Regions from separate parts of the Homo sapiens genome. Here regions 1 and 2 are each linked to region 3. Evidence: fine-mapped expression QTL. A gene starts in region 3. Each other region holds a variant in brackets. All regions are shown on one strand. Distances are between the middles of the regions.

What was found. PIP is the estimated chance that this variant, and not a neighbour inherited with it, causes the effect.
Region 1: its variant is the best candidate, but not a certain one, in a credible set for the expression of PARP14 in whole blood (INTERVAL, PIP 0.53).
Region 2: its variant is the best candidate, but not a certain one, in a credible set for the expression of PARP14 in lung (TOPMed, PIP 0.59).

What each region holds. Positions count from the first base shown.
Region 1 is chr3:122,656,011-122,660,254 of GRCh38, forward strand. No RefSeq gene overlaps it. Among named protein-coding and RNA genes, the nearest start is that of PARP14, 23 kb to the right of the region's middle. The variant C/CAAATA (reference allele first, on the strand shown) is at 2,471.
Region 2 is chr3:122,719,468-122,723,711 of GRCh38, forward strand. It overlaps PARP14 (poly(ADP-ribose) polymerase family member 14), which reads left to right. Exons shown (of 17, transcript NM_017554.3): 15 at 788-921. Among named protein-coding and RNA genes, the nearest start is that of PARP14, 41 kb to the left of the region's middle. The variant C/CAG (reference allele first, on the strand shown) is at 2,101.
Region 3 is chr3:122,678,647-122,682,890 of GRCh38, forward strand. It overlaps PARP14 (poly(ADP-ribose) polymerase family member 14), which reads left to right and starts at 2,193. Exons shown (of 17, transcript NM_017554.3): 1 at 2,193-2,424. The coding sequence starts at 2,238. RefSeq lists enhancers at 1,181-1,300, 1,704-2,476, 1,901-2,300, 2,842-2,931 and a silencer at 2,541-2,590.

The DNA of each region.
Region 1 (4,244 bases), 23 kb before region 3:
ATTCCTATACACCAATAACAGACAAACAAAGAGCCAAATCATGAGTGAACTCCCATTCACAATTGCTACAAAGAGAATAAAATACCTTGGAATCCAACTTACAAGGAATGTAAAGGACCTCTTCAAGGAGAACTACAAACAACTGCTCAATGAAATAAAAGAGGACACATACAAATGGACGAATATTCCATGCTCATGGATAGGAAGAATCAATATCGTAATTTATAGATTCAATGCCATCCCCATTAAGCTACCAATGACTTTCCTCACAGAATTGGAAAAAACTACTTTAAAGTTCATATGGACCCAAAAAAAAGCCTGCATTGCCAAGACAATCCTAAGCAAAAAGAACAAAGCTGGAGGCATCACACTACCTGACTTCAAACTATACAAGTCTACAGTAACCAAAACAGCATGGTACTGGTACCGAAACAGAGATATAGACAGATGGAACAGAACAGAGGCCTCAGAAATAACACCACACGTCTACAACCATCTGATCTTTGACAAACCTGACAAAAACAAGAAATGGAGAAAGGATTCCCTGTATAATAAATGGTGCTGGGAAAACTGGCTAGCCATATGCAGAAAGATGAAACTGCATCCCTTCCTTACACCTTATACAAAAATTAATTCAAAATTGTTTAAAGACTTAAATGTTAGACCTAAAATCATAAAAACCCTAGAAGAAAACCTAGGCAATACCATTCAGGACATAGGCATGGGCAAGGACTTCATGACTAAAACACCAAAAGCAATGGCAACAAAAGCCAAAATAGATAAATGGTATCTAATTAAATGAAAGGGCTTCTGCACAGCAAAAGAAACTACCATCAGAGTGAATAGGCAACCTACAGAATGGGAAAAAATTTTTGCAATCTACCTATCTGACAAAGGGCTAATATCCAGAATCTACAAAGAACTCAAACAAATTTACAAGAAAAAAACAACCCCATCAAAAAGTGGGCAAAGGATATGAACAGACACTTCTCAAAAGAAGACATTAATGCAGCCAACAGACAAATGAAAAAATGCTCATCATCACTGGTCATCAGAGAAATCCAAATCAAAACCACAATGAGATACCATCTCACACCAGTTAGAATGGCGATCATTAAGAAGGCAGTAAACAACAGATGCTGGAGAGGATGTGGAGAAATAGGAACGCTTTTACACTGTTGGTGGGAGTGTAAACTAATTCAACCATTGTGGAAGACAGTGTGGTGATTCCTCAAGGGTCTAGAACTAGAAATACCATTTGACCCAGCGATCCCATTACTGGGTATATACCCAAAGGATTGTAAATCATGCACACGTATGTTTATTGTGGCACTATTCACAATAGCAAAGACTTGGAACCAACCCAAATGTCCATCAATGATAGACTGGATTAAGAAAATGTGGCACATATACACCATGGAGTACTATGCAGCCATAAAAAAGGATGAGTTCATGTCCTTGGCAGGGATGTGGATGAAGCTGGAAACCATCATTCTGAGCAAACTATCACAAGGACAGAAAATCAAGCACCGCATGTTCTCACTCATAGGTGGGAATTGAACAATGAGAACACTTGGACACAGGGTGGGGAACATCACACACCGGGGCCTGTCAGGTGGTGGGAGGCTGGGGGAGAGATAGCATTAGGAGAAATACCTAATGTAAATGAGGAATTGATGGGTTCAGCAAACCAACATGGTACGTGTATACCTATGTATCAAACCTGCACACTGTGCCCATGTACCCTAGAACTTAAAGTATAATAAAAAATAAAAACAAAACAAAAAAAAAACCTTTAACTTGGCCTGATACTAAATAATTGTATTGGTCAGGGTTCTCTAGAGAAACAGAACCAACAGGGCGTGTTGAGATTATATAAATAAATTACAGGCTGGGCATAGTGGTTCACACCTGTAATCCCAGCATTTTGGGAGGAGTGGGCAGGTAGATCACTTGAGCCCAGGAGTTTGAGACCAGCCTGGGCAACATGGCAGAACACTGTCTCTACAAAAAATACAAAAATTACCTGAGCGTGGTGGTGCATGCCTGCAGTCCCAGCTACTTAGGAGGCTGAGGTGGGAGGATTGCTTGAGCTCAGGAGGTTGAGCAAGGCTGCAGTGAGCCGTGATTGCACCACTCTACTCCAGCCTGGGCAACAGAGTGAGACACCGTCTCTAAAAATAAATAAATAAATTACAGTTCGCAGTGGCTTATGCCTGTAATCCCAGCACTTTGGGAGGCAAGGCGGGTGGATCACTTGAGGTCAGGAATTCGAGACCAGCCTGGTCAACATGGTGAAACCCCATCTCTATGAAAAATACAAAAAATTCCCGGGCGTAATGGTGTCTGTAATCTCAGCTACTCAGGAGGCTGAGGGAGGAGAATCGCTTGAACCTGGGAGGCGGAGGTTGCAATGAGCCAAGATCACACCATTGCACTCCAGCCTGGGTGACAGAACAAGACTCTGTCT[C/CAAATA]AAATAAAATAAAATAAAATAAAATAAAACAAAATAAAATAAATAAAATAAAATAAAATAAAATAATTAAAAAATAAATTACAGAATTAATTAAAATTGCAATAAATATTTAAAAAGAGGTAGAGAGTGATATAAAATGTACTGCTTAACTGAGTCTGAGAAGTCAGGATAGGCTTTTCTGAGGAATATGTCAAACAGAAATAAGATTTTTTGGTTTTAAAATATAAGAAGGTAGAAGAAAAATGTTTAAGGTGAAATAAACCTATGTTTCCAAGTGGGATGAATTAGCTAGTGACAGAATGTGTTCTCACCTAAAATAAGCAGAAAATTAGAACAAAATAGAGGAGGCATCTATTTTAAGGCAGAAAAGGGCTTCTGAGTTAGCAATAACTGAAGGAGCCAAAACTCCAGAGAGGGAGAATCACAGCTAGGGAGAGCTGAGTTCTGCAGCCACTGTGCCTAGGGGTCATCTGCTGATTCTGTGCTTGGGGAGGAGACTGATAACCCCAGGCCTTGCACCCAAGGAAGGCCACTGCTGGGAGGCAGAGGCCAGGAGGGATATGGGAGGAGATTTGGAAGGTCTCCAGAGAACATCTGTTAAATTACAGGGGTGCATGAGGCTGGAGTCTAAAAAGAGAAGCAGAAAACTTCTGAAGCAGAACAGAGCCTTCGGCAGTCTTGTAAAGACAAAGATTAGAATTCTTGGCCCACCAGGTGGAAGAGCATGGAGAATACACTAGGATTTCTGCTGAAAATCCTGAAGAAGCAGGAGTAAAATCAATGCAGGCTGAGCCTTACGAAGGACACAACTCAGCCTCAACTCACCACAGTGCATAGAGGATTCAGGGTTAGATTTAATTAATTCTAAATTAGAATTAGATACAAGTCACCAATTAGAAGCAAGATGCTTTATAAAATTAATATAATTTTTATTGTATGTGGAGAAAATAAATGAGCAAGTACATCAAAGAGCATTTCAGATTCAAAAAGAGTGATGAGAAGAATTTGTCCTAGCAGACATTTAATGTACTGGTAACAAATTTGAAACACTTGGTGTACAGGAATATCAATAATGAGAATATTTAAAAGACCCACACTTTGCACTACACTCTGAAAAAAAAAATCCAGGTAGATTGGGAGTTAAATACATTTAAAAAAACAAATACACATATGTAAAAGACTAGCACTAGGGGAAATCACTTTTTGACTGTCGATGGAATATAAATGAAAAAAAGACGGACAGGTTCATGACTTAGATAGCTTTATCTTTGGTGGAATGAATACCAATAAAGCTGAAATTTAAAAATTCAGAAGACTGGAGAAAAAGTTTGCAAATGAAGACAAAGTTCAATAACTAAAAAGTATAAAGAGTGCATATAAATAGGTAAAATTACCAACTATTAAACAAATGATTAAAAAACAGTTCATACAACAAGAAACACTGTCAGTAAATCATAATTTTAAAACTATTCAGTCAACCTTGTTGGTAAAATAACTGCAAATTAAACCTACGGTGAAGTTTCATTTTGTGCCTTAAAAAAATTTAGAAAAACTTTTAAAAAGTTGTAAAAGCCAAAGCCTGCAAGGCTTCGGGAAGCAGATATGCTCATGCATTAATGAAAGCAGCGTAAACTGATTCAGTCTTCCTGAAGGGCAAAATGGTACTTTATTGAAAGAATCATAAATATGCCTAACCCCTGACCAAGTAATAGAATTTATCCTGAGGAAATGATGTTTAATAAAAAGTGTATGTATATATAATGTTTATTTTATG
Region 2 (4,244 bases), 41 kb after region 3:
GACACACATGGCAGGAAGCAGGCTTCAGATTCTCTGACCAGACCTACTCTCCAAGAAGGGAAGCCCTGTCTTGTGTAGGCAGCCCTTCCTACCTTCGAACCAGATTAAGTCCCCTTTGAAAATGAGTAAATTGGCTTCCATTACACTATATTTATCTCCTGTGAGATCAGTGTGAACAGATTCCCGAGACTCTGAGCAACCCTGGGGAAATGATAAATCACATATAGTATTCTGCTTAGCAGAGGAGAAGACAGAGCTGTCACCACAGCTTGTCACATAGCAAAATCTGCCACCTAACTGCCTCTTAAAGATGCTATGAAGAATAATGAAAAAATAGATGTAGAGTGCCTGTGGTGGTGATGGTGAGGAGTTCTGGCAAAAATCCATGCACAAACAAAACAGCAACTACTTAGAACACTGTAGGGAAATAATTTATTGTGAAATTGTGACTACTAGAGATTGAACAGAAAACACAGATGAGTTATACTGCACCAACAGTTCTCAAATCGTAGTATGATCCAAACTTAGGAGGCAGACATACAGGCTCTGCCCCTCACAGATGCTGATTCAGTTGATCTGTGGCTTTCCTTTTTTTTGTTTAACAAGCATTCCAGTTGGTTCTGATGTAGGTTGTCTGTTGTTCATGCTTTGAAAAGCGTTCTCCTAGAAAGATAAGGAACTCTTTGAATGCTTAGAATTGGGAGATAGTAAAACAAGAACACAGATACTAAATGTTCCAGAGTGTACCGGGGATGTATGAGGGCATCCTCAAATGTCTCCTTTGCAGTTGACATCCCTGCACACTGGAGTGATATGAAGCAGCAGAATTTCTGTGTGGTGGAGCTGCTGCCTAGTGATCCTGAGTACAACACGGTGGCAAGCAAGTTTAATCAGACCTGCTCACACTTCAGAATAGAGAAGGTAAGCCTTCTGCTAGAATGCAGTTTCTGGATGGTGGAAATAAGTTCTGTCATGGTCCTATATAAAATCCATTTTCATTCACTTCCTATCACATTTTTTTAAACCCAGAATTAGAATTTGTATGGTAATTAGTAGTTCTAGATTCTACTCATGTGACCATAATTACTGAGGCATTAAGATTCTTGTGTCAGTGATTACAATATTTGATTGTAATATGATAGAACACTAAAGACATATATTTACTTTGTGAAGCAAGCTAATACAAATTCAAAGATATGGCTTTAAAATTGGATTTGATAGCTAGCAAATTCCACAGAGAGCCATGCAGAGGCTCCTTAGATCAGGACCATGTTACTCTGCCCCATTATTCACAGATCAACAGTGCTTCCTTGATAAAGCCAGCAGGCCTTTTCTCGTTTATCATAATTATTTTGGGCAGGTGAATGTGATGATTCGTGCCTGTAGTCCCAGCTATTGGGAGGCTGAGGTGGAAGGATTGCATGAGCCCAGGAGTTTGACGCCAGTCTGGGTAACATAGTGAGATCCTGCTCTCAAATAAAAACAACCAATTATTTTGGCATCTTCTTCCATTTTTAAACATTTTTGATATTGCTGTTTGAAATTATATTTTCCTTGACTTCTCTAGCAAAATTATTATGATTTTTTTTTCCTTGACTAATTTTCTTTTCATTTTTGCAGGCACGCTGTTTCTCTTCCAAACCCCTAATTCTAGCTTTATTCACGCCATTTATGCTTAAACGGTCTTTTGTCTCTGTACCTCACCAGGGAATATATTTACCCTTCTTGGATTCAACTATTAGTTCAATGTCAATAGCTCCCAAATCAACATTACCAACCTGGGTCTTTGACTCAAGCTCTAGAACATACTCCCAGTGGCCTAAAAAAATCTCCACTTGAGGCTGGGCACAGTGGCTCACGCCTGTAATCCCAGCACTTTGGGAGGCCGAGGTGGGTGGATCACGAGGTCAGGGGTTCAAGACCATCCTGGTGAAGATGGTGAAACCACGTCTCTACTAAAACTACAAAAATTAGCCGGGCATGTTGGCAGGTGCCTATAATCCCACCTACTTGGGAGGCTGAGGCAGGATAATTGCTTGAACATGGGTGGCAGAGATTGCAGTGAGCCAAGATCACGCCACTGCACTCCAGCCTGGTCGA[C/CAG]AGAGTGAGACTCCGTCTCAAAAAAAAAATCTCCACTTGAATATCTAACTGCAAAATCAACTTCTCTAAAATCTAATGCATCATACGTAAGTAATTCTCTTTCCCTTTCCTTCCTCATTTCTGTTTTTGGTTCTACCACTTTCTGAGTAAAGCCGGAGATCTTTGATCCACCATAAGTCTGCCAGTAAGACCTACATTTTCTTTGCAAATTTTTCTTACTCTCTATTTGAACTGCCAACACTGTTTATTCATGTTGTTAAGTACATCATAATTTAAAAAGATTCAAAGTGCCCTACAAAGATATAAACTATACCTTCAGATAAAATAAATATACAAAGAAAAATGGTTAAAGAGAAAAGAATGGCAGGGAAAATAAGATAATACAGACGAACTGCTAGTTCTCAAAAATATATAACATGAGGTTACCAATTTGTCCCTGAGCTTCCTAGTAGACAAAGCAAGAAGTAAACATTCAGGTACAAGACTCATAATGTCCGTAAATCAAAAAGCAAACCATTTGATAAGGAGGCTCACAGCTCCTCACAATACTGAGACTGACTCCTGAGAGATTTCTCTTGTGGATCAAGTACTAGAGAATATCCTCAACGTCATCCTCACAATAAATTAAATATCAACTTTTATATCACTGTTTTTTTTTAATGTAAAACTGGTTGAACAAAACCGATGCCTGATTGAATGAAAACAATTCTATGAGGCACCAAGACAATATGATTCAAGTATGCAGCTCTATGATGGTCTATTTCTGAGATAACAAGTAAGTCTCACTCCAAGTACCAATTACTACTAACTGGTAGTGGCTGATTGGCACATTGTGATGAGATGCTAAGTTTAGATTGAGCAGGAATGAATGTTCTGCTTGACCAGCAATATCTACAGTGGGCCCTGTGGATGCCTGCTGTGTATTGGCAGACCCTGGCCAGAGAATTGATTTCAACACTTTTTTGCAGTGAAACCTTTTTTTTCAATAAAATCTTATGTGAAATCCCAGTGTATGAACCAGATAAAAGCAGAGGTGTGGGTAGTACTTAAGGTGCCTCCATGGAGGTCCCTAGAATTGTGAAAATAACATAAAAAATGGGTGGTCTGTCATCCTCTATGACTATTATGTCTTATGATTAAGGTTTTTAATATCCATAAGCCTTCCACTTAGATTCAACAATTGTGCCACTTTTGCTTTCTCTCCCTGTCTGTTTTTGCTGAAGCATTTGAAGGTAAGTTGCAGACATCATGATACTCCTATTTTAGCAAGTATCTCCCAATTAAAGACATTCTCCTAAATTATGGCAATGCCATTATCCCAATTAAAAACTTAACATTAATTCAGTAATATCCAATATGCATTTCATATTTTTTTTTTTTTTCCCCGAGACGGAGTCTTGCTCTTTCACCCAGGCTGGAGTGCAGTGGCGCGATCTTGGCTCACTGCAACCTCCGCCTACCGGTTGCAAGCGATTCTCCTGCCTCAGCGTCCCAAGTAGCTGAAATTGCAGGTGCCCACCACCACACCCGGCTAATTTTTTTTTGTATTTTTAGTAAAGATGGGGTTTCACCATGTTGGCCAGGCTGGTCTCGAACTCCTGACCTCAAGTGATCCCCCCGCCTGGGCCTCCCAAAGTGTTGGGATTACAGGTGTGAGCCACCACATCTGGCCACAGTCCATATTCTAATTTTTCCAGTTGTTCAAAAAAATCTCTTATAACTCCCCCTCCCCAACCCCAGTCTGAGTTCACACACGGTTTGGACATTATGTCTCCTTTGTGTCTTCTAATATAGAGTAGTACTCTTGCATTTAAAAAATTATTTTTCATGACATGAATTTTTTTAGAGTTTAAGCCAATTGTATTGTAGAATGTATCACATTCTGGATCTGTCATGCCTTGATTTTTGTGGAAGAATCCATGCCAGTTTTATAGATTCTAGACTTATCTGATTCTTGATAATATCATTTATTTCTCTATCCTCTTTATTTCTGGTAAGCTGAGTTAGGTTGAAAGGTTTGAGTAAATTCAGATAAATATTTTTTGCAAGAATACTTCATAGGTGATACATCACATCAGGAACCTCAGATGGTAAGGCCATCCCACTATTAATGATGCTAAGTTTGATCACTAGTTAAGTGGGTG
Region 3 (4,244 bases):
AAGTTCAGCCCAAAAATGCAGACATGGGCTGTTACATTAAGATGAGCTGTAGCTGTGAAGTAGAAGGAGAATCAAGGAACACGGCCACTTCTACAGCAGGCCACCCCCACCCCAGGCCCTGAGAAGACACGTGCTTCCCAGGAAGAAAGGATCAGAAGGCAGATACCCACAGGAAACAGAGAATTGTGAGAGGATACGCATTCTTCAAGTGAACAAGGCAAAAATAACTTGCAGAAAACAAAGTACTGCAGGAGCTAATGCCGTTCAACAATTTGCCCCTTCTAGAACTTTCTTTCCTTGGCTTTCAAGACCTGCCATCCTGATCCTCTGATAGCTCCTTCCCAGTCCACCCAGGCATGATAAGCAGACCTCGGTGGTAAGACACATTGTCGATAATTAAATAAATCCTCGAAAGTAATCCAGAAATGCCTCTGACTTTATTTCTTATACAATAATTATGTGAGGAAAAAGGGAAACTTTTTGCTGAGTTCTGGAACCCCAAACTCAGGGGAGAGTGGGAGAGGAGGAGTGCTGATTTTAGTTGTGGTTTGGGATGAGATGTAAAGGCCCTGGGGAGAAACAGTCACCAAGTCTGGCTGAGGGCGCTTGTCCTCCCGTCTTCCGCATGCGGGGGTCCAGAGCAGTTTTGGATCAGATGATGAGCGCCATCTGCAGGTAGCAAGCTGGAGGCAGGAGAAAATATCTGTGTACTGTTTAGGATTATTACAGAGCCGAAATAAAAGCCAGGTAAACCATTTGGCCCATCTCTGGTTCTCTTCATTCTGAAATTCAGCCCGATCCTGTAACCCCACAACCTACTGCCTGGCTCCTTCTTCCCCTTCACGGTCACATTTCTGCAAAGAGCGTGTTACGCTCTCTGCTTCCACTTCCTTCCCTCCCTTTCAGTCTTCAGTAGCTGCCATCTCCCTCTCCTCCCTCCTCACCAGGAGACTATGCTTGCCGCTCCTCAGCAGTCCAGCAGACACTTCTCTGACCTGAGGTATCGGTAGCACTGGAATGATAATCCCCCCGCCCCCCTCGACTTGCAACACTGCTTTATTTGGGGTCAAGGAAACACACAGCCCCAGCTTCTCTCCCATCACTCGGCCTCCCCTCTTGCAGATGCCACTATTATCCAGCCACTTGCACGGGCCATCCATGGCTGACCATGGAGTCATCCTTGAGCTTCTCCTTCTCTCAAGGCTCACATTCTTCAGCAAGTCCTGCTTTCACTATTAATTGAGAATCCTCGTTTTCTCAGTTCTTCTCTGCCAGCACCCCAGTCTCAGCCACCCTTGTCTCTCACTTAGGACACTATGGTAGCCACTTGGCTGATCTCTCTGCCTCCACTCTAGCCACCACGCAGCAGCCGGAGTGATCCTGTACATGTGAATCACACCGTGGAACCCCACTTCCTAACCCTCCAAGGCTATCCCCTGATATCCTGGGGTTATCAGGTTACATGTCACCGCCCTATAAACCCTCCCTGAGCCGCCACAGCTGGACTAGGAGCCACTCCTCATCTGTTCCAGGAACACAAGTATATTCTTTCCCAGAGCACCTATTGCCCACTGTGTTCACCATAGCTCCGTGAGCTCAGCGAGGGTTCAGTGAGTGAGTGCATGGCGCCTAGTAAATATTCCACAAAAAAAACTGTGAGTGTAATTGTTTCCCCCACATTTCTAGACATGTAGTATTAACAGATCAAGGAACAGAAAGCAAAACAGGGAAAGCAACGTAAAATTCTGATAATCACAATGATTGCTGAAAAAGTCCCCAAATAGGCAGCAAACATTCTAAAGGGGCCACAGTTTGTGAGTCATTTTATTCTTTTGTAAAGGGTCGGCTTGCGGCAAAAATTAAATGATCTTTGCGTTTGGGCAAGGTCTGGTGCCCCAAAGCTGCCGACTTGATCTGCGGTTGGGGCGAGCGGCAGGTAGGGGGCCCGGAGTTAGGAGGGGGTGTGGGAGCCCGTGGAGCACAGGTGAACTGAGGCCGCCTTCCCGGGGCGCCGCTGGCCAGCCCCAAAGGGTTACTTTGGCCTTGGCTGTGGGCCGAATGCGAAGGTGGGGAGGTGGGCGGGGGATGACTCTGCCATTCCTGGGTCCGCTGTGTTAGGCTGAAGGCAAAAGGAAACCAAGGCCTGGGAGTTTTCCAGGAAACGAAAGCGAAAGAGTCAAAGTTAGCGGCCCGGAGTTGGCGCGGCCCCTGCAGTCCGGCGGAGAGCGGAGCTGAGGATGGCTGTGCCCGGCTCCTTCCCGCTGCTGGTCGAGGGCTCCTGGGGCCCCGACCCCCCGAAGAACTTGAACACCAAGTTGCAGATGTACTTCCAGAGCCCGAAGAGGTCGGGAGGCGGCGAGTGTGAGGTCCGCCAGGATCCCAGGAGCCCATCCCGCTTCCTGGTGTTCTTCTACCCGGAGGACGGTGAGGGGCGCGAGGGGTGGGGTGAGGAGGGGGCACCTCTGCCCTCCCTCCAGGGAAATGGCGGCAGGGCACGCACGGGAGGGTGACCCGCCCGACTTCGGCGGCTGCTGTAGCGGAGGTGGCCGGGGCGGGGGCGGGGGCGGGGGCGGCAGAATGGATTCCGAGCGCACCCGGGGCGCTGCGGTTCCCCGGCGCCCTGCGCTTCCAGGCGCTTAATGGCGCGGCCCGGAGGTGGCGGCGGAACCGCGCAAGTAACTCTTTATCCCTCGATCGTTTTCTGTCTTTCCCTGTTGTGGTGGTGTTATTGTTTGTTGTTGTTGTTGTGGAAGTGAGTCTATCCTCTTATCATCCTTTTCTGTCTTTTCCTGTTGTTATTATTCTTGTGTGGGGAAGGAAACTGATTAAGAAACGTGGCAAGTCACAGAGATTCCTTGTGGTTCTTGGAGATTCCCAGGGGTCCCGGGGTCACTTGGGAGAGGGGCAGAGGCGCTACCTAAAATCACACTGCCTGAATGTCAACGTAGAGCCGTCACAGCGGCCACATTGGAGGGGCTGTCGATCGACCACAGGTGCCCATTGTCGAGGGCCTGCCGGGGCCTCTTCTCCGAGTCTCTAGTGGCCCTCAGATTGGGAGCAAGGATGATATTCTGAAGTGATTGTGGGTTGGGAGATTTGAGCTTTGGAGGGAAAGTCGGCAAAGTTCCCTCCTTACAGACCCACCACTACTTGGTGGGCCAAGAGCCCAGAGGTGATCTGCTGGCTCAAGGGCCTCCCTGGTCTGCAATGGGAAGCCAGTGACCTGCAGCTCCCAGAATGGGCACCTTTTCCACTGGCATCTTATGGATGATGACCTATCGGGATCTAGTCAACCCCTAATTCCGCTTTCATGTCGCTAGATTTGGAGAAGCATTCGGGCCAGAGGAGAGGCAAGGAGGCTGAGGCTGAGGCCATGCAATTAGAGTGCCCAAGCAGGGATCCAAAAAGGAAAAATGAAACAGAAAAAGAATGGCGCACAGAAGGAAGGAAGGAGGGGGACAGGAGATATGCTTGGCTCATGGCCCTTATGAAAACAAAATACCATGTTTTCCTAGGATTAATTTTACCAAGGAGTGCTCAGAAGGGCAACTGTGTGATATTAGTCATTTCTCTTTTGGGTGTCACTTTTCCTTGAGGGTTTTCCCCACTTTGACTTCAGAGGTCAGCATCACCATCGATCTGGCCCTTAAGGATGCTTCTTTCTCCTTTAGATTCCATTATCCTTAGAAGTAGGTCTGACCTGCATCTGAATCACCTGGAGAGCAGGTTAACCAGGCACCTTCCCAGCTCTGTTTTAGAGATTCAGGTTCAGTGAATGTGGGGTGGGTGGGAAGCGTGTATTTAACCGGCAGCCCAGGTGACCCTAATGTGTTCAAGTTTCAGAATTTCCGTAGTTAATGTTAACCCCAAATGAACAAAAAGAAATAATTATACAAATTTAAACAGCATGAAAATACAAATAGCACAAAGTATAATTTTGTGATGATAAAATAACTCAATTCTAGCCCTCCAAGCAGAAAAGATTTCAGTCTTCCTGCTGGGCTTCCATCCTTGACCGGCCCCAGCCCACTACTCCTCTTCCTCCACCCCCAGGCTGCTCCAGTGGCCCCTCTTGTCTTACCCCCCAGCACAGATGACCCAAAACTTATTAAAACTCAAAACCGGCCGGGCGTGGTGGCTCACGCCTGTTAATCCCAGCACTTTGGGAGGCTGAGGCAGGTGGATGACGAGTTGAGGAGATCGAGACCATCCTTGAGCAACATGGTGAAACCCTGTCTCTACTA